Linked DNA regions of Homo sapiens. Changing the gene in region 7 together with the main gene of any one other region gives a genetic interaction. Each region holds a gene or a part of one and is shown on either strand. Other genes may lie near its edges.

What was found.
Region 1: changes in WEE1 (region 7) and CHEK2 are lethal when combined (synthetic lethality), as found in Homo sapiens cells (one large-scale study listed by BioGRID).
Region 2: changes in WEE1 (region 7) and SMAD4 together harm fitness more than expected from each alone (negative genetic interaction), as found in Homo sapiens cells (one large-scale study listed by BioGRID).
Region 3: changes in WEE1 (region 7) and CDK12 are lethal when combined (synthetic lethality), as found in Homo sapiens cells (one large-scale study listed by BioGRID).
Region 4: changes in WEE1 (region 7) and CHEK1 are lethal when combined (synthetic lethality), as found in Homo sapiens cells (one large-scale study listed by BioGRID).
Region 5: changes in WEE1 (region 7) and FH are lethal when combined (synthetic lethality), as found in Homo sapiens cells (one large-scale study listed by BioGRID).
Region 6: changes in WEE1 (region 7) and TOP2A are lethal when combined (synthetic lethality), as found in Homo sapiens cells (one large-scale study listed by BioGRID).

The regions. Positions count from the first base shown.
Region 1 is NC_000022.11:28,687,243-28,689,820, reverse strand, and holds the end of CHEK2 (serine/threonine-protein kinase Chk2), read left to right. Parts: intron 1-605; coding exon 606-686; intron 687-1,834; coding exon 1,835-1,924; 3' UTR 1,925-2,078; downstream 2,079-2,578. UniProt on the Homo sapiens protein: Serine/threonine-protein kinase which is required for checkpoint-mediated cell cycle arrest, activation of DNA repair and apoptosis in response to the presence of DNA double-strand breaks.
Region 2 is NC_000018.10:51,082,213-51,085,542, reverse strand, and holds the end of SMAD4 (mothers against decapentaplegic homolog 4), read right to left. Parts: 3' UTR 501-3,330; downstream 1-500. UniProt on the Homo sapiens protein: In muscle physiology, plays a central role in the balance between atrophy and hypertrophy. When recruited by MSTN, promotes atrophy response via phosphorylated SMAD2/4.
Region 3 is NC_000017.11:39,467,986-39,471,485, reverse strand, and holds part of CDK12 (cyclin-dependent kinase 12), read right to left. Parts: intron 608-3,500; coding exon 1-607. UniProt on the Homo sapiens protein: Cyclin-dependent kinase that phosphorylates the C-terminal domain (CTD) of the large subunit of RNA polymerase II (POLR2A), thereby acting as a key regulator of transcription elongation.
Region 4 is NC_000011.10:125,638,663-125,642,162, forward strand, and holds part of CHEK1 (serine/threonine-protein kinase Chk1), read left to right. Parts: intron 1-3,500. UniProt on the Homo sapiens protein: Serine/threonine-protein kinase which is required for checkpoint-mediated cell cycle arrest and activation of DNA repair in response to the presence of DNA damage or unreplicated DNA.
Region 5 is NC_000001.11:241,499,930-241,502,755, forward strand, and holds part of FH (fumarate hydratase, mitochondrial), read right to left. Parts: intron 2,642-2,826; coding exon 2,514-2,641; intron 662-2,513; coding exon 508-661; intron 1-507. UniProt on the Homo sapiens protein: Catalyzes the reversible stereospecific interconversion of fumarate to L-malate. Experiments in other species have demonstrated that specific isoforms of this protein act in defined pathways and favor one direction over the other.
Region 6 is NC_000017.11:40,407,897-40,411,396, reverse strand, and holds part of TOP2A (DNA topoisomerase 2-alpha), read left to right. Parts: coding exon 1-43; intron 44-150; coding exon 151-288; intron 289-2,766; coding exon 2,767-2,905; intron 2,906-3,272; coding exon 3,273-3,430; intron 3,431-3,500. UniProt on the Homo sapiens protein: Key decatenating enzyme that alters DNA topology by binding to two double-stranded DNA molecules, generating a double-stranded break in one of the strands, passing the intact strand through the broken strand, and religating the broken strand.
Region 7 is NC_000011.10:9,587,078-9,590,485, forward strand, and holds the end of WEE1 (wee1-like protein kinase), read left to right. Parts: intron 1-1,371; coding exon 1,372-1,525; 3' UTR 1,526-2,908; downstream 2,909-3,408. UniProt on the Homo sapiens protein: Acts as a negative regulator of entry into mitosis (G2 to M transition) by protecting the nucleus from cytoplasmically activated cyclin B1-complexed CDK1 before the onset of mitosis by mediating phosphorylation of CDK1 on 'Tyr-15'.

The DNA.
Region 1 (2,578 bases), on a different chromosome or scaffold from region 7:
CTCCTGCAGCATGAAACCCCTCACCTCCCGCTCCTGCAGCAGAAACAAAATACTTGGTTCTGTTTATTGTCTCCCTTTCTCATTAGACCTGAGCTCTGGGATACTGTGGGCTTAAGTACTTCTGAAAATTTGTATGGCATCTGCTGGGTGAATTTTCCTAGGGTGCTGGGCTGGTTGTTAGGACAGTCTGGGTGACTGGCCTCATTCATGGCAGGGGCAGCAGGTGGAGAGTGGTCCGGGAAGGATTTGAGGAGCTGCACGGAGTCAGGCCCAGCCTCTGGCCTCCTGATTGCCACCTTTCTCAGGATCTTGGATACTAATTAAGAAACTCTTGACTGCTGGAGGCTGTGATTGACCCACTGAGAGCTTTTAGGCATGTGGATGTGAGTCAGCCAGGATTGATGGAGCATTGACTGCTAATTAGACTCCTCTGGGAAGGTAGAGGCGGGCAACACATAATGCCTTCGCTGTGGGAGCTTCATCAAGGGGATGATTCTTGGACGGACATTTTTCCTCCCTCTTTCCACAGGGGCATGCTAGCCCTGTCATTCTAGGAGTTTATTATCCTTCAGACACAGCTACTTATGTTTTTAATTCCCTCACAGGATGAAGACATGAAGAGAAAGTTTCAAGATCTTCTGTCTGAGGAAAATGAATCCACAGCTCTACCCCAGGTTCTAGCCCAGGTATTCGTATTCCTGATGATCACTAAATGTAGTCTGGGCTTAAGGAGCTGATAAGCAAAGATGATGAAATTCAAGATTTTCCTGAGTAGCAATTGCTTAACATTGTTTCAGTTATAATGTAGTAGAAACTCTGTTTTAACTTGATTCGCTCCAGCACCCTTAGATTTAAAAATGCAGGATATGTTTAATATCTAACACATAATAGACCGATAAGCACAGCTAGGGATTGTCATCCAAAAGGTCACCTGCAAGGCAATTTCGAAAGACTCTATTAGAGGCTCAAATATAAATTTGTTGAACAAATTAAAATTTGGGTCAGTAGTTGATTCCTTGATTACAATTTTATTCTTTAAAGTTCTTTGTGAGTATAAGTTAATTCCAGTCCTGCTTTTTTGTTGTTGTTGTTGTTGTTGAATGGTAGCTGTCCTTTTTCCCACTGTTTCCTCCCCCCAATTTTTTTTTTCTTGAGACAGAGTCTTGGTTTGTCACTCAGGCCGGAGTGCAGTGGTGCAATCTCAGCTCACTGCAACCTCTGCCTCCTGGGTTCAAGCAGTTCTCCTGCCTCAGTCTCCCGAGTATCTGGGATTACAGGTGTCCGCCACTGTGCCCAGCTAATTTTTGAATTTTTAGGTGAGATGGGGTTTTGCCATGTTGGTCAGGCTTGTCTCGAACTTTTGACCTGAAGCGACCTGCCCACCTCGGCTTTCCAAAGTGCTGGGATTACAGCTGTGAGTCACCGCACCCAGCCTTCCTCCCAATTTTATATATGGGAAAACAACTAAGGCACAAAGGTTGTCTTCCCGCAAAAGACCAAGACTTGGGGCTTCAACTGAGAGGTATTATAGTCCTTTTAAACTTGATATTTAGAAGAGGACGATCAAGAGGAAGTTGGTTATGCTACTTGCTTTCAGTATACATCGTTCAGAGGTCAGAAGCCATAAGGGAGAGAAATATCTATTAGATAAGCATGTCTGAGTTGGGGGCTGTGGTGAGGACTCAGTTGTCAATGATGACAACCAGTAATTTTTGGTTCTAGAATTTCACATCAAATGCCCCCACTTTACTGGAAGCATATTGAGGAACTTTGATAATCTTAAAGAAGCCAGTGATTTTCTTTTGAACATTTCTCCATTTTCCTTTATTTTCAGCCTTCTACTAGTCGAAAGCGGCCCCGTGAAGGGGAAGCCGAGGGTGCCGAGACCACAAAGCGCCCAGCTGTGTGTGCTGCTGTGTTGTGAACTCCGTGGTTTGAACACGAAAGAAATGTACCTTCTTTCACTCTGTCATCTTTCTTTTCTTTGAGTCTGTTTTTTTATAGTTTGTATTTTAATTATGGGAATAATTGCTTTTTCACAGTCACTGATGTACAATTAAAAACCTGATGGAACCTGGGCTTTGTGCTTCTGCTTGATAATCGGTTCTTTAGTTGAATGGCTTTATTATTTATTTATTTGAGATGGAGTCTCACTCTGTTGCCCAGCCTGAATGAAGTGCAGTGGTGCAGGCTTGGCTCACTGCAACCTCTGCTTCCCAGGTTCAAGCGATTCTTGTGCCTCAGCCTCCTGAGTAGCTGGGATTACAGGTATGCACCACCATGCCTGTTAATTTTTATATATTTTGTAGAGACAGGGTTTTGCCATGTTGGCCAGCCTGGTCTTGAACTTCTGACCTCAGGTGATCTGTCTGCCTCAGTCTCTTAAAGTGCTGGGATTACACGCATGAGCCACTGAGCCTAGCCTGAATGGCTTTTTTATATTTAAAGTTGTGTGCCTTTCATCTGGAGCTACACCTTGGCTATCACTAGGCAGGTTTCCCAGGATGTCACCCTGGTCTCAGCCTGTGAGAGCTGAATACAAATTCTAAGGGCCCCTTGGAAAGTTCCAGGGAAGGGA
Region 2 (3,330 bases), on a different chromosome or scaffold from region 7:
CAGGTGAGAAGAAATCTCTCAGCCCGATAAACTCTCTGAAACTCATGTCAGCAAGCTTAGAAATAAAATGCTGATGTGGTCTTGTTATATACAAGCCATTGCCACGGAATCTACTTACCTGACCACCACTCCCCTCCCATTGACCCCTATTTCACAGAGAAGGCAGATGGGAGAGAAACAGCTTTCCTTATCCCTTAGCTGGGCAATGAAAGGGTCTCCAATTTCCAATTTTACCTCTCCTTTAAGCATCCTGGTTCTTATAATTCCCTAGCACCCATCTCTCTGATCACCATCACTTCACCTTCTCCTTTTAAAAATGAGAGAAGAATGGGGACTGTTATTCCAGGGTCATATTTTAAATGTCACATTTCCCATTTCAGTGGCCACAAGGCAATAAAGGAAAATGTTGACCTAAAGTTTGAAAATTCTCTAAGTGATCAGAAACCCTTTCCAGATCCAAGACATCCACAAGCTTAAGAAAAAGAATGAGCACATAATGATTTAGTTGGCTTTCTCTTTTAATCAAAAACATACTTTGTTACAGAGTTCTCAAGAAAGGTTCGACTATTTTTTAGCCACAGACTTTAACCAGGCAAAAGTATACAGAAAGCCACAAAGGAACTCCTGGGACTTTCAACTGACCAGTTGTCCCCAAAGCAGAAGCTACGAGTGGCTCTTCTCTGGCTTCTGGCATAGCTGCATTCCTCTGAATTTAGGGGAGGAAACAGTTGGGAAATACCACCACCAAATCTGTCCCCAACCCCCAACTCACTTCTTCTAAACTGGGCTCTGCAGCCCACCAGGTTTTCATCATCTATAAGCATTCACACTTTTCCCTTAAATCACATGTCCAATGCATTGAACAGAACTCAATACTTGAAGAAAGTTTGCCAACTCCATGTTTAGTCTTAATCAATCCAAGCCCGTGAGTCCTTCTATCAATGACAAGCAGCCTTTGCAACAGCAGCTGGTTTCATCCCTTCCTCTCCAGCTACCACAAAGCTGGCCTCTACCAGGACTCCCCAACCCCCCACCCTCAACCCAGCCCCAAGGAAGGCTCCCAGGTCCTTGAAAATATGAATTTCATTAATTGTACTCATCCAAGGGTAGGCTAGAAGAGAGCTCTGAATGATCCAGCCAAAAGTCACTTAATCAAAATGGACCTAAAAAGAGCCAAGAATAAAGTTAATAATCATCTACTGGTATTGTTTTCTTGAGTCATATAAACCAGTTTAATTGACACGGTTCAAGGGAATTTCCTTGTTTTGAGCATAATATCACTAAGCATTAACAACAGGTTTTCAATCCATTTTCACTGAAAAAAAAAATTACAAGCACACACCACTTAGGAGGGTGGTGTCACACACACCAACTCAAAAGCTATAATGTCATGACTCGAAAGCCTTAATAAACTCTGACCAGAGTGTGTGCGTGCGTGTGTGTGTGCACGCAATTCAAAAGCTAGAATGTCATGACTCGAAAGCCTTAAACTCTGACCTGTGTGTGTGTGTGTGTGTGTGTGTGTGTGTGCGCGCGCGCGTGCGCACGCGCGTTAAGTGTTTATTGCAGCCCCTAAGGTGGTGCTAGGCCTTTGGTTAAAATTAAGTCTTAAGGGCATACTATGTAACCTTTTGTCCATAAAAGAACAGTAATAAAATATCAAGCCTAGTCTCCTTTGAATAACATGGAAATAAGTAAAAAGCCCCCTCAAACAGCAGAACAAAGATAAGGAAGAAATCCAAAACTGCTGCAAGGTAGCCAAGGTCACTTAGAATTTCAGAGCTGGAATAATTAATCTACTCCAACTCCCTCATTTTACAGATGAGGCAACTAAGGCCCAGAGAAGATAAATGACTTGCCCAAAGGTCACACATCAAATTTGTGGCAGAGGGCAAACTAGAGAGTGCAACTGTCTGGCCCAACCCAGAGCCATTACTTTCAGGTTGAACAAGAACACTGGCTCTGGACCTATTGAGAAAGCATTTAAATAAACGGTGTGAAAAGTATCCACATCAACAGAGAGAAATGATTGTCTTCACCAAAGGTTTTCCTTAGTCCTTACTACATTAGAAAAAAAAAAACAGAAAAAAAAAGGACAAAAAGTTTCATTCATTCATTCCAGTCTGATGTTAAAATCCCTGAAAACACTAGCAATTACTTTAGCTACTCCTTGGGGCAGGATGTCAGACCCTCAATTCTCATAAAGGCACCTATAGGTCAAAAATATCTGTACAGGAGTAAGGCCAGAAGGCAGGGCTTCAAAGGGGACACCAAAACAAAACAAATGGCCTTAGTTTCCCAAGGTTTGTTTTGCTTTGTTGTGTGTTGTTTGCTGGTGTCCTCCAGACAACGGTATTGCCTCTGGCTACTGATGCTAATTTAGTAACCCTTGTAACCCCAGTTTTTGTAAGAGCAGCATTCAAGTGGAAGCAATGAAACCTTTCAAAATATTATTCTAAGGGGGAAAATATGAATATGACTCACTTCTCTCTATCTCAACTACCTGAAACTCAGCAAGAATCAGGAAGCACTCTAAGCTACATCAAACTGATATCAAATGCCAATACAATGAGGTCTTTTTCAGCACTTCACAGGAAAGTGTCTTGGGTCCTGTCCCAGAGTTTGTACTTGTGTTTTAAAGAACGTTCTAGTAAGTTTGGTTATCTGGTTTCCTTGCCTAGGCAGTCAGAAATGAAGAATCAGAAAGAGAAGAAGAAAATGCTAAAAGGAGGCACACTAACACTCACATATGAATGGTAATTATCAGAGAGGGAAGAGACCAGGAGGGGAAGTGGGTTAAAAAAAAAAAACTAAAAATTCAAAACCATAGCTGTCTCAGACCATTTAGTAAAGGCAACACAGTCCTGTCTGTTTTAGAAGCCCCTGAAGTCCACAAAGATAGCCAAGCACAGAAAGAAATGTTACCATCTAGTATATCCTCTGATATACATATTAAATAACTCCACCAAAAAAAGGCTAAAAATTAAAACGTTTTACTTCTTAAATAAGGCAATTCTGGATGATGTGGAAAATTTCACTCCACAGTGATTCCAGATAAACAAGATAAGCAACCTAGCAGCACTGGGACAACTGCTAGGGATAAGGCTGGGCCTAGGATGCCACTTTGTGGATGAATAAGGCCATGGACTTTTTACATACTTCTTGGTATGTTCAAAGAAATTACTTAGTTATCAGGGAAAAAAATGGAAAGGCTTGAACAAGATTGTCATAGCCTATTCTCTGTAGTCTTTGCAAAAGAGGATATGAGATTATTTAGATAGCTATCTGCAACAAGATGGATTCTGCCTTTACGGGAAAAAAAAATGCATT
Region 3 (3,500 bases), on a different chromosome or scaffold from region 7:
CAAAGGGGGTGTCTGAGGTGGAGGGGTAGTAGTTGGTAGAGGGGGTGGGGGAGAAGCAATTGTGGGAAGAGGTGGAGGGGTCTCCTTTTCTGATGTTTCTGTCTCCTTTGGAGTAACAATCTCCTCTTTCAGTGCTATGGGTTTAGAGTCTCTTGTTCCCTGTGCTTTCAAATCTTTAACAAGATGCTTCTCGGAGTTCTCATCCAACTTTACTTTCCCTGTATCTGAAGAATTTTTTACCTCTGTGTTTAGATGTGTTACATTCACCAGTTCAGTATCTGGGGCAGATTTTTCCAATTTTACACTTCTGGGTAACTTTTTAGACTCCAAACCTGAATCCTTAGCCTCTACTGAACTGTTCTCTTTTCTAGGCAAAAATACAGGTGAACCCTTGGACTCCTTTCCATCCATCTTTGCTGCAGCAGCAGCAGCTGCTCTTTCCTTCTTTTTCCTACTGAGTTCAGCTCCCAGACTGGAATTAAGTGGAAGCCTGACAGGTGAGATACTGGAATGACGACTGCGTGAACTGGATCTCTTCTTTTTACTATGAGAAGATGAATGTCTTGAATATGCAGGACTTCTACTTCTGGACTTCATGGATTTCCTACTGGAAAAATAAAAAGCCAGTTTTAAATGAATGGACTACAGTAGTATATGGAGGAAAACAGATCAATAAAACAAACTATGAAGAACTGTAACTTATCAATTGTAAAATAGATTAAGTGCCATCAAAAACGAGGACAGTCTGAGAAACCAGCCCAATCAAGAGGCACCCCAAGGAGACAGGACTAAATGTAAGATGGTATAATGAGTAAGATCCTGGAACAGAAAATGGACATTAGGTAGACTAAGTAAATCTAAATAAAGTATGGACTCCAGTTTATAATTATGTATCAATATTGGCTCATTAACTGTAACAACTGTACCACATTAATGTAAGATGTTAACAATAGGAGAAACTGGATGCAGGGATATATGAGACTTCTTTGCGCTATCTTCACAATTTTTCTGTAAATCTTAAACTACTCTAAAGAAATAAAGTTCATTTAAAAAATAGATTAAACTGGCTGGGCACGGTAGCTCACACCTGTAATCTCAGCACTTTGGGAGGCTGAGGCGGGCAGATCACCAGGTCAGCAGATCGAGACCATCCTGGCTAACACGGTGAAACCGCATCTCTACTAAAAAATACAAAAAATTAGCCAGGCGTGGTGGCAGGCACCTGTAGTCCCAGCTACTCAGGAGGCTGAGGCAGGAGAATGGCATGAACCTGGGAGGTGGAGCTTACAGTAAGCCACTGCACTCCAGCCTGGGCGACAGAGTGAGACTACATCTCAAAAAAAAAAAAAATAGATTAAACTAAATCCTACATGAAAACATATCTGAATCATATAACAATAAAATTATCTACTACTTATTCATCTGAAAAAAGATGGGTCACTATTTTTTTCCCACATTGGAAAAGAAACAGCCATACTCACAATGATTACTTTCAGAATTTTGAATTTAATCTTTGATAAAGTGAAAACAGGATAAGGCAGTCATGCTTGGCCAGGTGCGGTGGCTCACGCCTGTAATCCCAGCACTTTGGGAGGCCAAGATGGGTGGATCGCCTGACATTGGGAGTTCGAGACTAGCCTGACCAACATGGAGAAACCCCGTCTCTACTAAAAATACAAAATTAGCCAGGCGTTGTGGTGGGCGCCTGTAATCCCAGCTACTTGGGAGGCTGAGGCAGGAGAATCGCTTGAACCCAGGAGGCAGAGGTTACGGTGAGCCGAGATTGTGCCACTGCACTCCAGCCTGGGCAACAACAGCAAAATTCCGTCTCAAAAAAAAAAAAAAAAAAGAAGTCATACTCCATAGTAAAGGTGGGTTATATCCATCAGGAAGTTAAAAGCAACAAGCATGCTTCACCAAAACCTAAATTTGTTAGCTAGAGAGTTAAATGGCAGAGCCCAGAAAAATATGTTGTTCCTTGCATCCTCAGTTTATAATAAAGTTGTAAAGTTTAAAATAAAGTACTAAACAAATTCCCAACACATAAGGCTTAGGATTTACAAAACAAATAAAGTGGAGAAAATGATTTACCAAAATAACTTTTAGAACGTTTCAAAAACATGAGGGCTCCTAATATCTTTATTATAAAATGATTTCCAATAGACTTTTTAGAAACTCCTAAAGATATTATTGCATGTTTAATTAATTGTCTTCTTAAGAAAGGCTTTGGAAATAAAATCTGGGAATCTATGGGGCAGATCATTTTAAGTTGAAACCCAAATGTCATTAATTCTCATGACTTTTTACTAAAGCCTAACCTGCTAAGGCCTCAATGTGTGACAAAACAAAAAACCAACAAAGGCCGGGTGCTGTGGCTCACGCCTGTAATCCCAGCACTTCGGGAGGCCGAGGCAGCAGATCACGAGGTCAGGAGATCAAGACCATCCTGGCCAACATGGTAAAACCCTGTATCTACTAAAAATACAAAAATTAGCTGGGTGTGGTGGTACATGCTTGTATTCCCAGCTACTTGGGAGGCTGAGGGAGGAGAATCACTTGAACCCAGGAGGCGGAGGTTGCAGTAAGCCAAGGTTGCAGTGAGCAGAGATTGCGCCACTGCACTCCAGGCTGGCGACAGAGCGAAAATCTGTCTCAAAATAAATAAATAAATAAATAAATTAATTAATTAATTAAAATAAAAACATTAAAAGTGCCGGGCACTGTGGCTCACGCCTGTAATCCCAACACTTTCGGAGGCTGAGGCAGGCGGATTACCTGAGTTCGGGAGTTCGAGACCAGCCTGACCAATATGGAGAAACCCTGTCTCTACTAAAAATACAAAATTAGCCGGGCATGGTGATGCATGCCTGTAATCCCAGCTACTCGGGAGGCTGAAGCAGGAGAACCGCTTGAACCTGGGAGGCAGAGGTTGTGGTAAGCTGAGATTGTGCCAATGCACTCCAGCCTGGGCAACAAGAGTGAAACTCCGTCTCAAAAAAATAAATAAATAAAATAAAAATATTAAAAGCATAATTGGACAAAACAAAATTTTCCCAGTAGTCTAAAACAAATTGCTTCCATTCTAGATCATCACATCTTCCTTTATCTTTGATCAGGGAGATATGGTAAGACTGACATATAGTAAGACTGACATGAACCAAAATGTTTCAAAACAACATATATGTGTAAGGGAAACAACTTGCATAATGGCAGCGATGATTTTCTTTTACCTATACTGCTTCTTGCAAGTTTGCTTCCAAAAGTCAGTTAAAATATAAAATTATTATTGGAAGCTGGGCGCGGTGGCTCACGCCTGTAATCCCAGCATTTTGGGAGGCTGAGGCGGGTGGATCACCCTGATCAAGAGTTTGAGACCAGCCTGACCAATATGGTGAAATCCCAGCTCTACTAAAAATACAAAAAAATTAGCCGGGCATGGTGGTGTGCGCCTGTAATCCCAGCTGCTCGGGAGGCTAAGGCAGGAGAATTGCTTGAACCCG
Region 4 (3,500 bases), about 120 Mb from region 7:
ATGGTACAGGTGTCCTCCTTATTCTTCATTGTCACTTTCTCCCATCTTCCTTTATGTCTCTCCCCTCTAACTTTTGAACCCCAAATTAAAATTTCTGCCGTACTATCACAGTCTGCAAAATGACTCTTGATGTTATTTTCGTCATGATTCTTGGTGATTTAAATATTTATTTGGATCATCCTCCTGATATCCTGACTTCACTGTTTCTTGACCCTCTCTCCTATAGTGATGTTGTCTTTGAACACGCTGCACTGATCACCAGTATAATTTTTTCTGACTTCCTCCCTTAATATTCTAACTTAAACAGTCCTTTGTATCTGGACTTGCAATTAATTAATTCTATCTCTTCAGTCTCTTACCTGCTCCCTCTCTAGGTCCTTGATTTCATCTTTACCTATCTTAAATCTTTAGGTTAGTCATTATAAATGACTGCTTTGCGTTCATCATCTTCAATTTCCTTGTCCCCTTCTCTCTTCATCATACTTAGTGGGTAAAACCCAGTAAGTAGTTTCTGGGTTTAATCTAGTAGTTTTCTACGTACTGCACACTTGTACCTGCACAACAGATTGCAGCAGGAGAAAAATACCCAAAAATGTTCACTTTAAATTCAGGATTACTAATCTCAAGTGGGCCCTTAATGCTTCCTGGCATTTGGCCTTCGTTTCCCCACATCTTTCTCTGTCCTGTTCTCCTAAATCACGTTTTTATAATACTTTTCTCTTTTTTTTTTTTTTTTTTTTGAGACAGGGTCTAGGCTGGAGTGCAGTGGCGCCATCTCCACTCACTTCAACCTCTGCCTCTCAGGTTCAAGCGATTCGATTCTCGTGCCTTAGCCACCCGAGTAGCTGGGATTACAGGTGTGAACCACCACACCTGGCTAATTTTTATATTTTTAGTAGAGGTTTTGCCATGCTGGCCAGGCTGGTCTCAAACTCCTAGCCTCAAGTGATCCCCCTGCCTCAGCCTCCCAAAGTGCTGGGTTTATAGGTGTGAGCTACTGTGTCTGGTCCCTTAACTTTTATTATCTTCTCTCCATCCTCACTCTCAGTTGTTCACTTTGCTTCCTGTGTCACTGGGAAATGAAAGCCACAAGAGAACTTAGGCAAGCTCCCACCACCATCTCCTCCATACTAACTGCCTCTATGCTCATGTATTCTCTTTCATCCTGTATTGCTGTAGATAAATTGCTCTGGATGTAAGCCAGGTCTTTCTCTTACCCACTCAATGACTTTGTCTAGCAATTTTTCTCCCTCTCCTACATTATTAATTTTTCCTTCTCTACCGGATCTTTCTCATCAGCATATCTACATGCTTTTTCTCCCATTTTAAAATCAAATCATAATGGTAATAAAATTTCTCTTAACTCCACTTTTCCCTACCATTCCATCTTCTTCACAATTGAATATTCCTAAAATTGCTTCTCATCTCTAACACCTCAAAACTAGTTTTCAATTTCATCTATTTTGTTGCCAAGAGTCACAGTGATTTTTGGAACGTGTTGCCAAGTTCAATGTAATAGTCCACTGTGGTCAACCGAGGTCTGAAAAGATTAAATGGAAAGTACCAGAAGTAAACAATTCATCAATTCATGGGTTTTGGCCGGGCGCGGTGGCTCACGCCTGTAATCCCAGCACTTTGGGAGGCCAAGGCGGGCGGATCACGAGGTCAGGAGATCGAGACCATCCTGGCTAACACGGTGTCACCCCGTCTCTACTAAAAATACAAAAAATTAGCCGGGCGAGGTGGCGGTCGCCTGTAGTCCCAGCTACTCGGGAGGCTGAGGCAAGAGAATGGCGTGAACCCCGGGGGGCGGAGCTTGCAGTGAGCCGAGATCGCACCACTGCACTCCAGCCTGGGCAACAGCGAGACTCCGTCTCAAAAAAAAAAAAAAAGAAATTCATGGGTTTTATTTATTTATTTAATTCGAGACGGGATCTCGCTCTGTCGCCCAGACTGGAGTGCAGTGGCGTGGTCTCCACTTACTGAAACCTCTACCTCCTGAGCTTAAATGATCCTCCCATCTCAGCTTCCCGAGTAGCTGGGACTACAGGTGTGAGCCACTATGCCCGGCTAATTTTTGTATTTTTGGTAGAGATGAGGTTTCGCCATGTTGCCTATGCTTTTCTACCAAAAATACAAAAATTAGCCAGGTGTGGTGGTTCACGCCTGTAATCCCAGCTGTTCTCAAACTGCTGGGCTTAAGCAATCCACCCACCCCGGCCTCCCAAAGTACTGGGATTATAGGCATGAGCCACAATGCCCTGCCATAGGTTTTAAATTGTGTGCTGTTCTGAGTAGCATAATAAAATCTTGTGCTGTCCTACTTCATCTCACTTGGGATGTGAATCACTCCTTTTTCCAGTGTATTCACGTTCCATGTGCTACCTGCTTGTAACTCCCTTAGTAGCTGTTTTGGTTATTAGATCGAAAGAACATATATAGGGTTTGGTACCATTTGTACTTTCAGGCATCCACTTGAACATATCCCTCTGTGGATAAGGGGGGTACTACTGTAGTCAGTTCTCAGACCTCTTGTTTTATCTCATCAATATTTTATACAGTTGATCATGCCCTCCTCCTTTAAACACTTTCTTCATTTGGCTTCCAGGCGTTACACTCTTCTGATTTTCGTCCTTCTCACTGGTCGCTCTTTTCAGTCTCTTGATGGTTTTTTTTCATCTGCTCAGCCTCCTACTATTGGAGTTCTCCAGGGCTGAATCTATGGATCTCCTTTGTTTTCTTCTCCACACTCACTCCATTAGTGATATTACTTGGTTTCATGGCTCTAAATAAAACTATATGTTGATAGTCACATTTATATCAACCTAGACCTTTCCTCTGAATTCCAAACTTACATGTCTTAACTGCCTTCTGAAATTTCACTTGAATGTTAAGAGGCATCTCACACTTGATGAATTCCAAACTGAGTTACTGATCTTTTCCTTTCAAACCCATTCCTTTTCAAAGTCTTTCCCATGTTGGTTAATGGCAACTGCATTATTCTTATTATGCAGATCAGAAACTTTGGAATCATCCTTCATTTTTCTCATTCTCTTTTACTTCACATCCAGTACACCAGCTAATTCTGTTAACCTCTATCTTTAAAAAAATCTTAGAATCTGATTACCTTTTTTTTTTTTACCTCTACTGTTACCCTATCATTCCAAATTACCATGATATCTTTCCAAAATGTTCTGATTTAAAAGTGAATTAGAATATATCACTATTCTACCCAAATCCTCCAATGCTTTAGTTCTCACGTGTAGTGTAAGCTAAAATCAGTTCATGACCTGTGAGTTCTTACACAATTTTGTTCCTTACATTACCTCTCCAACCTCAGTTCTGCTTTGCTCCCCCTTGGTCATATTGTTGTTCTTCTTATTGTTCTCCAAGTGCTCTAGGCACACTTCTACCTCACTGTTTTTGTAGTGACTGTTCCTATGTCTGAAAATGCTTTTTCCCATGGGACTTATTTGCATGTCTTATTCTCTTACTTTCTT
Region 5 (2,826 bases), on a different chromosome or scaffold from region 7:
ATTTTCCTTCCTCCCTTTCACTATAAGCAATGAATACATAAACTTTTTCTTTTAATTGTAACTTTCCATTTCTGAATTGAATAAAACAACAAAATTAAAGCATTGTAGAGATCTAGGGAAGGTAGAAAAATGAGTTCATTCAATGTTGCTAATCAGCAGTGCCACCTAGTGACATTACCCACTGAAGGTCTTACAAATAACCTTCCCCAATGGTCTGCATAGAATATTTGGCGTCTGAATTCCATTAAAATCAAAATAAGTTTGAACTACTACTTCTCGATACATTTCAAATAAAATGAGGCATAATAGATCTAGTTTTGAAAGAACTATGACACCATACAAGTTATATAGTACCTTTCCACACAATTTCAAATATTTTGAGATTTTACTAAAACCATATTCAAAAGAAATTTGCTGTTCTCAAACACTGATCCACTTGTCTCTTAAAAATGGTTTAGCTTTTTAATTTTGCATTCAAAATGATATTATTATTCCTTAAACACTTACCTATATGAGGATTGAGAGCTGTCACCAACATTAGAGACTCATTCATCAGCTTGTTGATCCTTTCTGTATTGGCCTGGATTCCCACCACGCAGTTTTCTGTAAAGGAAACTGAAGCATCCCCCAGCAGCCTGGCTGAGTGTAACACATTTTTAATCTTTGAGTGAGTGAGAGAGAGAGAGAGAGAGAGAGAGAGAGAGAGAGAGACATTACTAAGGCAACATGTTTTTTGTCCAATAACATATTATTTTCTGGTTGACAGTAAATATACAATTCAATAAACATATAGATCTTCTACAAATTTTAAGGCACTATAACCAAGGAAACAAATGTGAAAGAAAGCATGAACATTTGAAGGCACAGAAATCTAAAAAAGGTGAAAAAGACATAAATACAAATGACTAAAACACAAAATAGCCCATAGCAAGTATTTAAAACAGAGGTCTGAAGTGTTAGAGACCATAGAGAAAGAGAAATTAACTCCAGTTGTCGGAACTGGTGAAATCCTATTTTATGGAGAGGACTTGGCCAGAGAAGGAAAAAGAATCTTCCACGCAGAAGGAAGAGGAGCAAAGATGCAGAGGTTCGAAAGTTCAGTATGAGTGTGAGGCAATTAGTAAAGTCAGGGCAAAATCTAATGATCACCAAATTTCTAGGTTTTCTATGCTTTAACGAATACTCCAGTCACTGTAAAATAACTTTTCATATAATATTAAAAAACAGTATAAAATCAATTAGTTTGTTTTGGCTTTGTTGGCAACATTTCCAATATTTATTAAGATATATCCAAATCCTAATATCCTCTGGTCTAAAACTCCGGTCTGAAAACTAGACTTCCAACAATGGACTCTAAGACATATAATCTAAGTTTTAATTTGCTACTAATGACCTTGTAATAAGGCAAATATTGATTATCTTTATTTTACATTAAAAATAAAATTTTAAAAAGATTAACAAGGCATTTATTGTTATGCACCTATAAATGCTGGGTATCTCGTGTTAACTGTTTGGAATCTGACCTGAGAGCAAAATTTTAACAGTCTGAGTTCTGCTCTGGCCTGTGTTTTTATTTACCACTAGGATATACATTCCATGAGAGCAAGAAATCTGTCTTTTCATTGCTCTATCTCTATTATGCATCCAGTACAGTGCCTGATAGAAAATGGTACTCAATAAATATTTAGTGAATATATTAAATATACTCCATATTTGTCATTTGCATATTCTTATAAAATTAAAATTAGAATTTAGAAGAGATTCCAAGAGAAAGTAAGCCCCTACTCTACTTTAGCTATAACACTTTGTCCAAATGAAGGACTCTAAATTATGGCAACAGCTCCACTATCTGCAGCTGAGGAAACTGATGAGAAATGGCGCGATGCATCTATCGATCTTCGTAAAGACGAAAGAAAAAGAACGGTTTGGGTGGACACAATGTTTTCAAGTATGTGGAAAGGTAAAGCCAGACAATGAAACGAAGTCTGACAGGGGGCAGAAGAAGAACTGGTGAAAAAATGTTCAAGAAAGCAGGGATGAAGAATGTTTCAAGGAGGGACAGTCAACATCAACTATTAGTAAGGGAAGAACTAACTGCGCAATGCCAGCTGGACTGAGGTAGTCACCAATGAATGGGAGAATAATTCAAGCGTGGAGGGGGCCATGCTGGGCTGTGGTGACTACAGCATAAATGAAAGTGAGTATGTGCTATCCTTCCAAGAAGACTGAATTTGAAGAAGAAAGCAGCAGCATGAGAAGGAGACAGGCTTGTAGGGAGGCATTTTATTTTTCTTAAACGGGCTATTAAAAAAAACATCAAATTGCTTAGGTTAAAAGTCAACTAATTTCTATTATCTAGGATTATTCTGGTAACTTAATAAATGCTTGACTTCCAACTGCTACTTATGTCACCCAACTACCCAATGTGGAATCACTAGAAGTCTTTATGAAATACAAAACCAAGATAATAAGCCTTTGGTCAAAAAACATTAAAAATCAGATTTAAAGCTTACCATCATTGGCTTGAAAACATTCAACTCAAAATGTCCATTGCTGCCTCCGACAGTGACAGCAACATGGTTCCCCATGACTTGGGCTGCAACCATGGTCATTGCTTCACACTGAGTAGGGTTCACCTTGCCTTCAAGAAAACCACCAATGACAGAGTAAAGACTAAATTTATGCAAATAATCAGGAGAATAAAGAAATCTAATTTCACTAAATAGAGTAAGATATACAATAAAGCAAGGCCCAACCATCAGTGTAATTTAATGAAACAAACCAACCAAGGAAGGTGGGATGGGTAGCCACAAAATGAATCATTCA
Region 6 (3,500 bases), on a different chromosome or scaffold from region 7:
GAAGAAGAAGAACAAGGGTGGTGTTGCAGTAAAAGCACATCAGGTATGTGCTTTTGGCAGTTTTCTTTTTCTAAAGTCAAGGAAGAAGAGAAAGGCTATAAATAAAGCATGAGTACATTTTTAGTGGCTTAATATCAACTTCTATTGCAGGTGAAAAATCACATGTGGATTTTTGTAAATGCCTTAATTGAAAACCCAACCTTTGACTCTCAGACAAAAGAAAACATGACTTTACAACCCAAGAGCTTTGGATCAACATGCCAATTGAGTGAAAAATTTATCAAAGCTGTGAGTACTTAGAGGAAAATAAAAATAGAAACACCTGACTTTATTTTCCATTGCACTTCTTAGCTCTGCAGAAACAATGATTCTTCTCATAGTGAGCTTCTCCAAGTCTTCCCAATCTGAAAAGGAAGTAAAAAAGGGCTTTACTTTAACTGATTTACCAAAGACTTAATGACCGTCTATATTTCAGTATTTCCCAATTACATTTTACCATTAAGCTTAGATCACTTTTGAATTAATCTAGCTGTTTAACAAACACCCTCACTTAAATGCCTAAGACTTGCTTTCAGTCAACACATCCAAAATTGAATTTGTTACCTCCATACTCACTGATTTGCCCATACAAGCAGCCCCCCACTCTCCAACAAAAAAACAACTTCCTATCTTAGTAAAAAGCCCCAACCAACCTCTAGGTTGTATAAACAAGAAAGCTGGGAGCCTTCCTTTATTTCCCCTCCTCTCTAATCCGGTCAATAAGAATCATCTCTTGGATGCTGCAGTAGCTTCTCACCATTATCTCTTTTTTGGTTTACTACAATAGGTTCTTAACCTTCATACTGGTTAAGTCCTTTCCTTGGAATGCTTTTGAGTGACTTTTGTGTTAAAACACCCATTTTTATCTTCACTCTCATTTGAAATCTTTCAATGACTTCCACTCAGGGAAAGTCCAAATTCCATAATTTGGCCAACAAGAAAGATCTGCTGTAATCTAATTACACCTACTTCTCCAACTCATCTCAGTGCCAGTTTTTCGTATATTGTCCTGTTGCTTTTAAATTACTGAAAAGCACAGTGCTCTTCCCCTCCTCAGAGTTTATTCACATGCTAATCCCTCTGCATGAAATACATCCTTTTCACCTGGCTACTTTAGGTCTTGTCCTTTCCTCAGGAAAGCCTTTACTTTCTACCCTTCCCCCCACCTAAGTTGGTTCCAATATAATATTGAACATACCTTATTAGCAAACTTTTTGCTTATCCATAACACTTATAACACTGTAACTTATTTTATTTCTGTCTTTTTTTTTAGGCAGAGTCTCGCTCTGTCGCCCAGGCTGGAATGCAGTGGCACGATCTCGGCTCACTGCAACCTCCGCCTCCTAGGTTTCAGTGATTCTCTTGCCTCAGCCTCCCGAGTAGCTGAGATTACAGGCATGCATCACCATGCCTGGCTAATTTTTTTGTTGTTGTATTTTCAGTAGAGACAGGGTTTCACCATGTTGGTCAGGCTGGTCTCAAACTCCTGACCTCAAATGATCCACCCATCTCGGCCTTCCAAAGTGTTGGGATTACAGCCATGAGCCACTGTGCCCAGTCTTTTTTTTTTTTTTTTTTGAGACAGAGTCTTGCTGTGTTGCCCAGGCTACAGTGCAGTGACGTAATCCTGGCTCATTGCAATCTCTGCCTCCCAGGTTCAAGCGATTCTCCTTGCCTCCTGAGTAGCTGGGATTCTCCAGCCTCCTGAGTAGCGGGGATTACAGACATGCACCATCACATCCAGCTAATTTTTGTATTTTTAATAGAGATGGGGTTTTACCATGTTGGCCAGGCTGGTCTTGAACTCCTGGCCTCACTTGATCCACCATCCTCGGCCTCCTAAAGTGCTGTGATTACAGGCGTAAGCCACTGCACCCAGCTATGTCTGTCTTCTATGTTGTGTCTTAAACTTGATGAGGACAAGTGTCTCAATTTGTTTTATTTGTGTCTAATTTTATTTATTTATTTTTAATTTTTTTTTTTGGAGACAGCTTCTCACTGTTTCCCAGGCTGGAGTGCCGTGGCTTGATCTCAGTTCACTGCAACCCGCGCCTCCCAGGTTAAAGCAATTCTCCTGCCTCAGCCTCCCAAGCAGCTAGGATTACAGCCATTTCACCACCACCATGCCTGGCTACCCTTTTTTTTTTTTTTTTTTTTTTTTTTGAGACGGAGTTTCACTTTTGTCACCCAGGCTGGAGTGCAATGGTGCGATCTTGGCTCGCTGCAACCTCTACCTCCTGGGTTCAAGCGATTCTCCTGCCTCAGCCTCCCGAGTAGCTGGAATTACAGGTGCCCACCACCACGCCAGCTAATTTTTGTATTTTTAGTAGAGCCGGGGTTTCGCCATGTTGGCCAGGCCGGTCTCAAACTCCTGACCTCAGGTGTTCTGCCCACCTTGGCCTCCTAAAGTGCTGGGATTATAGGCGTGAGCCACCGTGCCTGGTCTAATTTGTTTTAACCACTATATCTCCAACAAGTAGCTCAGTGCTAGCACAATATAATTATATAGTAAATATTTATTGAACGAATGAACCAAAAGGAGCAGCTCCCTCAGTGGTGATAACCTGACATGGGAAGATGTGCCACCCTCTATCCAGAAATTATTGTTCTACATCTTTTTAATTTTTGAATCATTTTTATTTGTATTAAGGCTCATTTGTATTCTAGATTTCTGATAGATCCCTTCTTCCCTAATATGATCCCTAATATGAATCTTCTCGTTTTCAGGCCATTGGCTGTGGTATTGTAGAAAGCATACTAAACTGGGTGAAGTTTAAGGCCCAAGTCCAGTTAAACAAGAAGTGTTCAGCTGTAAAACATAATAGAATCAAGGGAATTCCCAAACTCGATGATGCCAATGATGCAGGTATATATTTAATAATGTTTCCAAACTTTTAAGTCTTATAGTTGTTATTTTATTCATTAATGGCATACCACGGATATTTATTTTTCCCTTGACAGAATAACTATATTCAACAGAATAACTTGTTAAAAATCGGCCCGTTTCCTATTATGGAAGATTTAGGTCATTTCCATGTTATAAATAATATTGAGGTGATTATTTTGGAGTATAAAACAAGAATGTTTATATTATGATCTATTACCTAACAAATAATTTTGCTCATTATATAGTAAATTGTGTTTTATCACAAGGCTATAAACAGCATGTTCAAGTTAGTATATTTGAGGTTGAACTAAATGTGCTAATATTAATATGTATATTTTTATTTTAGGGGGCCGAAACTCCACTGAGTGTACGCTTATCCTGACTGAGGGAGATTCAGCCAAAACTTTGGCTGTTTCAGGCCTTGGTGTGGTTGGGAGAGACAAATATGGGGTTTTCCCTCTTAGAGGAAAAATACTCAATGTTCGAGAAGCTTCTCATAAGCAGGTAGAATATAAGACGATCTTCAGAATCTAAATCTAATTTATAATACAAGACTTTATGCTTATATTTAATT
Region 7 (3,408 bases):
AGCCTCCTGAGTAGCTGAGCCACAGATGCATGCCACAACACCCAGCTAATTTTTATATTTTTTGTAGAGATGGGGTTTTTGCCATGTTGCCCAGGCTGGTCTTGAACTCCTGGGCTCAAACCATCCACCTGTCTTGGCCTCCCAAAGTGCTGGGATTATAGGAGTGAGCCACCTCACCCGGCTCCAGTAGTTCGATATGTTGTTATACGGTGAAAGCTTGGGGACTTCTGCCATGAATTAGTATTTGGCCTATTAAATTTGTGTTGTTTCTAAACTTTCAAATTACGAACTTTAAAAATGTTGAGACTAACATATATTTGCAAGTGGTGATAGTCCCCAAGCCATAAATGGTAGTAAAAGCTAAGCGAGCCTATACCAATCTTTTCTTCCCAGACTCTCACCAAAAGTTAACGTTGTCCTTGAAACATTCTGTTCTTATTTTATGAAAGGATGAAATTAATGTCAATTTGGTTAGGAGATGATTCTCATATATATGTTTTTAATTTCTGGCTAAATCTTTATATACTGAATGAAGATTCTCATATTGGACTTAATGACTTGATATTTTCAAAAAGCTGGTTGCAATGGTAAAGGTTATTAAAAAGAGAATATTGGAGAATATTAAGTTACCACAGATCACATTTCTAATTCTTTTGATTTATTGCAGCCATTTTGCTTTTAACCTAATAAAACTGACTTGAAAAGGTTATGTTAACAATTAATATTAACATTTAATATTTAAATTATAAGAATTGTATATTAAGAGGTTTACTTGCCACTAGTTTGATATCCATCATAGTTCATACAAATAGGAAATAAAGTGTTCCTTTCATCTCTCTTATGTAAGGATAGATTCGCAATATAAATTGGAGTTTTTGAAATTATTATTTATTTTTAATTTTTTTTTTATTGGGGATAGGTTTGTCTGGAAATTGTTTATTATTATTTATTTAAAAAGATGGGGTCTTGCTCTGTCACCCAGGCTGGAGTGCAGTGGCACTATCATAGCTCACTGCAGCCTCAAACTCCTGGGCCCAAGCGATCCTCCAGCCTCAGCTTCCCGAGTAGCTGAGACTACAGGTGTGAGTCACCACATCCAGCTCAAATTATTTTATAAGAACCAAAGTCATTACTAGCATCTTTACTACTTGTTTTCAAGTATGTGTGATACTGTAATTCAAAAAGCATAAAATAAAATAATTTCATAAATTTAAGTTGTTTTAATAGAAGCTTCAGTTTCCTGTTTTATTTTTCAATTACATCTTAGAATAATGATGGCATGCAAATATCTCCCAATCGACAATATAGTTTGTGTTAGTTTCTTAGAATCTCTTCCTAGGAATAATACCTTGTTTTCTATTTTTATGTCAGAGAACTCAAGAAAGCACAGATGGCAAAAGCTGCAGCTGAGGAAAGAGCACTCTTCACTGACCGGATGGCCACTAGGTCCACCACCCAGAGTAATAGAACATCTCGACTTATTGGAAAGAAAATGAACCGCTCTGTCAGCCTTACTATATACTGAGCTACTCCTTTCCCACCTCCCCCTGAACACTGTGACAAGAGGAAGCTAGGTTGAAATCACTGATAGAATCCAGTTTGCAATTACTTTCTCGATTGGTGTCAGTAGTTTTACTGATTAGGACTTTTATTGTGAATTACAGTTGAAAGCTGTATTTTGATGATTGCTATGTCAGGCTTTCATCTAATCTTACCAGTCTGTCTTCTGTAGGATGTGTCACTGTTGGATGTTACACCAGCCTTTCCAGGGTTAACCACTGTGGTGGTGTGCTGCTTATAGTTTGCTGTTGCATTGTAATAAAAGGTGTCTTTCCCTGTAGTGACCTGTAAAAAGTACTCAAGGGCTTTATTACAGACATACCCTCCCTTTGAAAAGGGACATGCTAAAAGACTCATTACTACTCAGCCTTCAATGTACCTGTGTGTCCATCTTATATTTCTTTTTTTTTTAATTGTGAATTAGACTTGTATATCCCACTGGGAGCACTTTGTAGGCATTGCATGAACCATGGGATGATGATTCTGTGGAGGTATTGCCTTGTGAATTTGCTGCTATTTTAGTTTTGTCTTTGCTGTAAACTTGTAGCATTAAACAATCATTGTTGTTAATAGGTCTTCTTTTTGAAACAATTATGTGAAATGTATAGCTGCTTTTGATGAAAAGCAGCTATTTGCCTTTTTTTTTTTTTCCTTTGAACTTTGAAGCTAGTGCATTGGAAAAATGCACCCTTTCCCTCCTTTGGAATGCTGTATTAATGTAGTATAATAATTACTGGTTTTGTAACTTGTTCTGGTAATGTCCTTCCCGGACTCTTTTTAAATGTCTCCCCCTAAGTTTTATACTTGATTGTATTATTAGTCTGTTTTTAAATGTTTTGCCCGGTTTTTCTCTTCAATATTTGTGTATATAAACCGATCTTCGTGATACTGTACATAGCTGTTTGAAATGCCAGAATGACTTCTGACATTCCAAGTTTTTCACAAAATATATTTTATCTGTGATTAGCCATTTGACTAATAATACTGGCTAACAGATGTTGAAAAAAATTGTCTGTTTGTTTTCTCATTAATTTTGGTCTAAAACATGTTTGCACTTGTCTTTGACTTGTGTTTTATTAACATTGATTGGCATATTAAAAGTCACTCTGAGCTTACCTTAATTGTCTAAATCCTTGTGATGCCTGTTTTCTAATATTTTATCTCTATTATTGCTATACTATAAAATGTATAGTGTGTATAATGTACTATTATAAAAGCAGAGGGCACATTTTGATTGAATATGAATATCACATTGCATGTTATGCATGTGACTTGCTAGAAATGTAGCATGATGTAATTTAAAATATCTTCAAATTATTAAGTGAATATAATATGATTCATAACTTTCTGATTTGTACTGAGTCACAGAAAACTTTAAAGTGGGGAGGTTTTGTTTTTGTTTTTAAGATGGAGTCTTGCTCTGTTACCCAGGCTGGAGTACAGTGGCGCGATCTCGGCTCAATGCAACCTCCGCCCCCTGGGATCAAGCGATTCTCCTGCCTCAGCCTCCTGTGTAGCTGGGACTGCAGGCATGCACCACCACACCCAGCTAATTTTTTGTATTTTTAGTAGAGACGGGGTTTCACTAAGTTGGCCAGGCTGGTCTCGAACTCCTGACCTCAGGTGATCTGCCTGCCTTGGCCTCCCAAAGTGCTGGGATTACAGGCGCCTGGCCCTTAAAGTGGGGAGGATTTTAATTCTCACTAAACTAGGCTGGGTTTTAAGATTTGAGGCCAGGCGTCTTGGCTCACGCCTGTAATCCCCACCACTTTGGGAGGCCAAGGCAGGAGGATTGCTTGGGGCCAGGAGTTTGAGACCAACCTGGGCAACACAGTGAGACCCTATCTC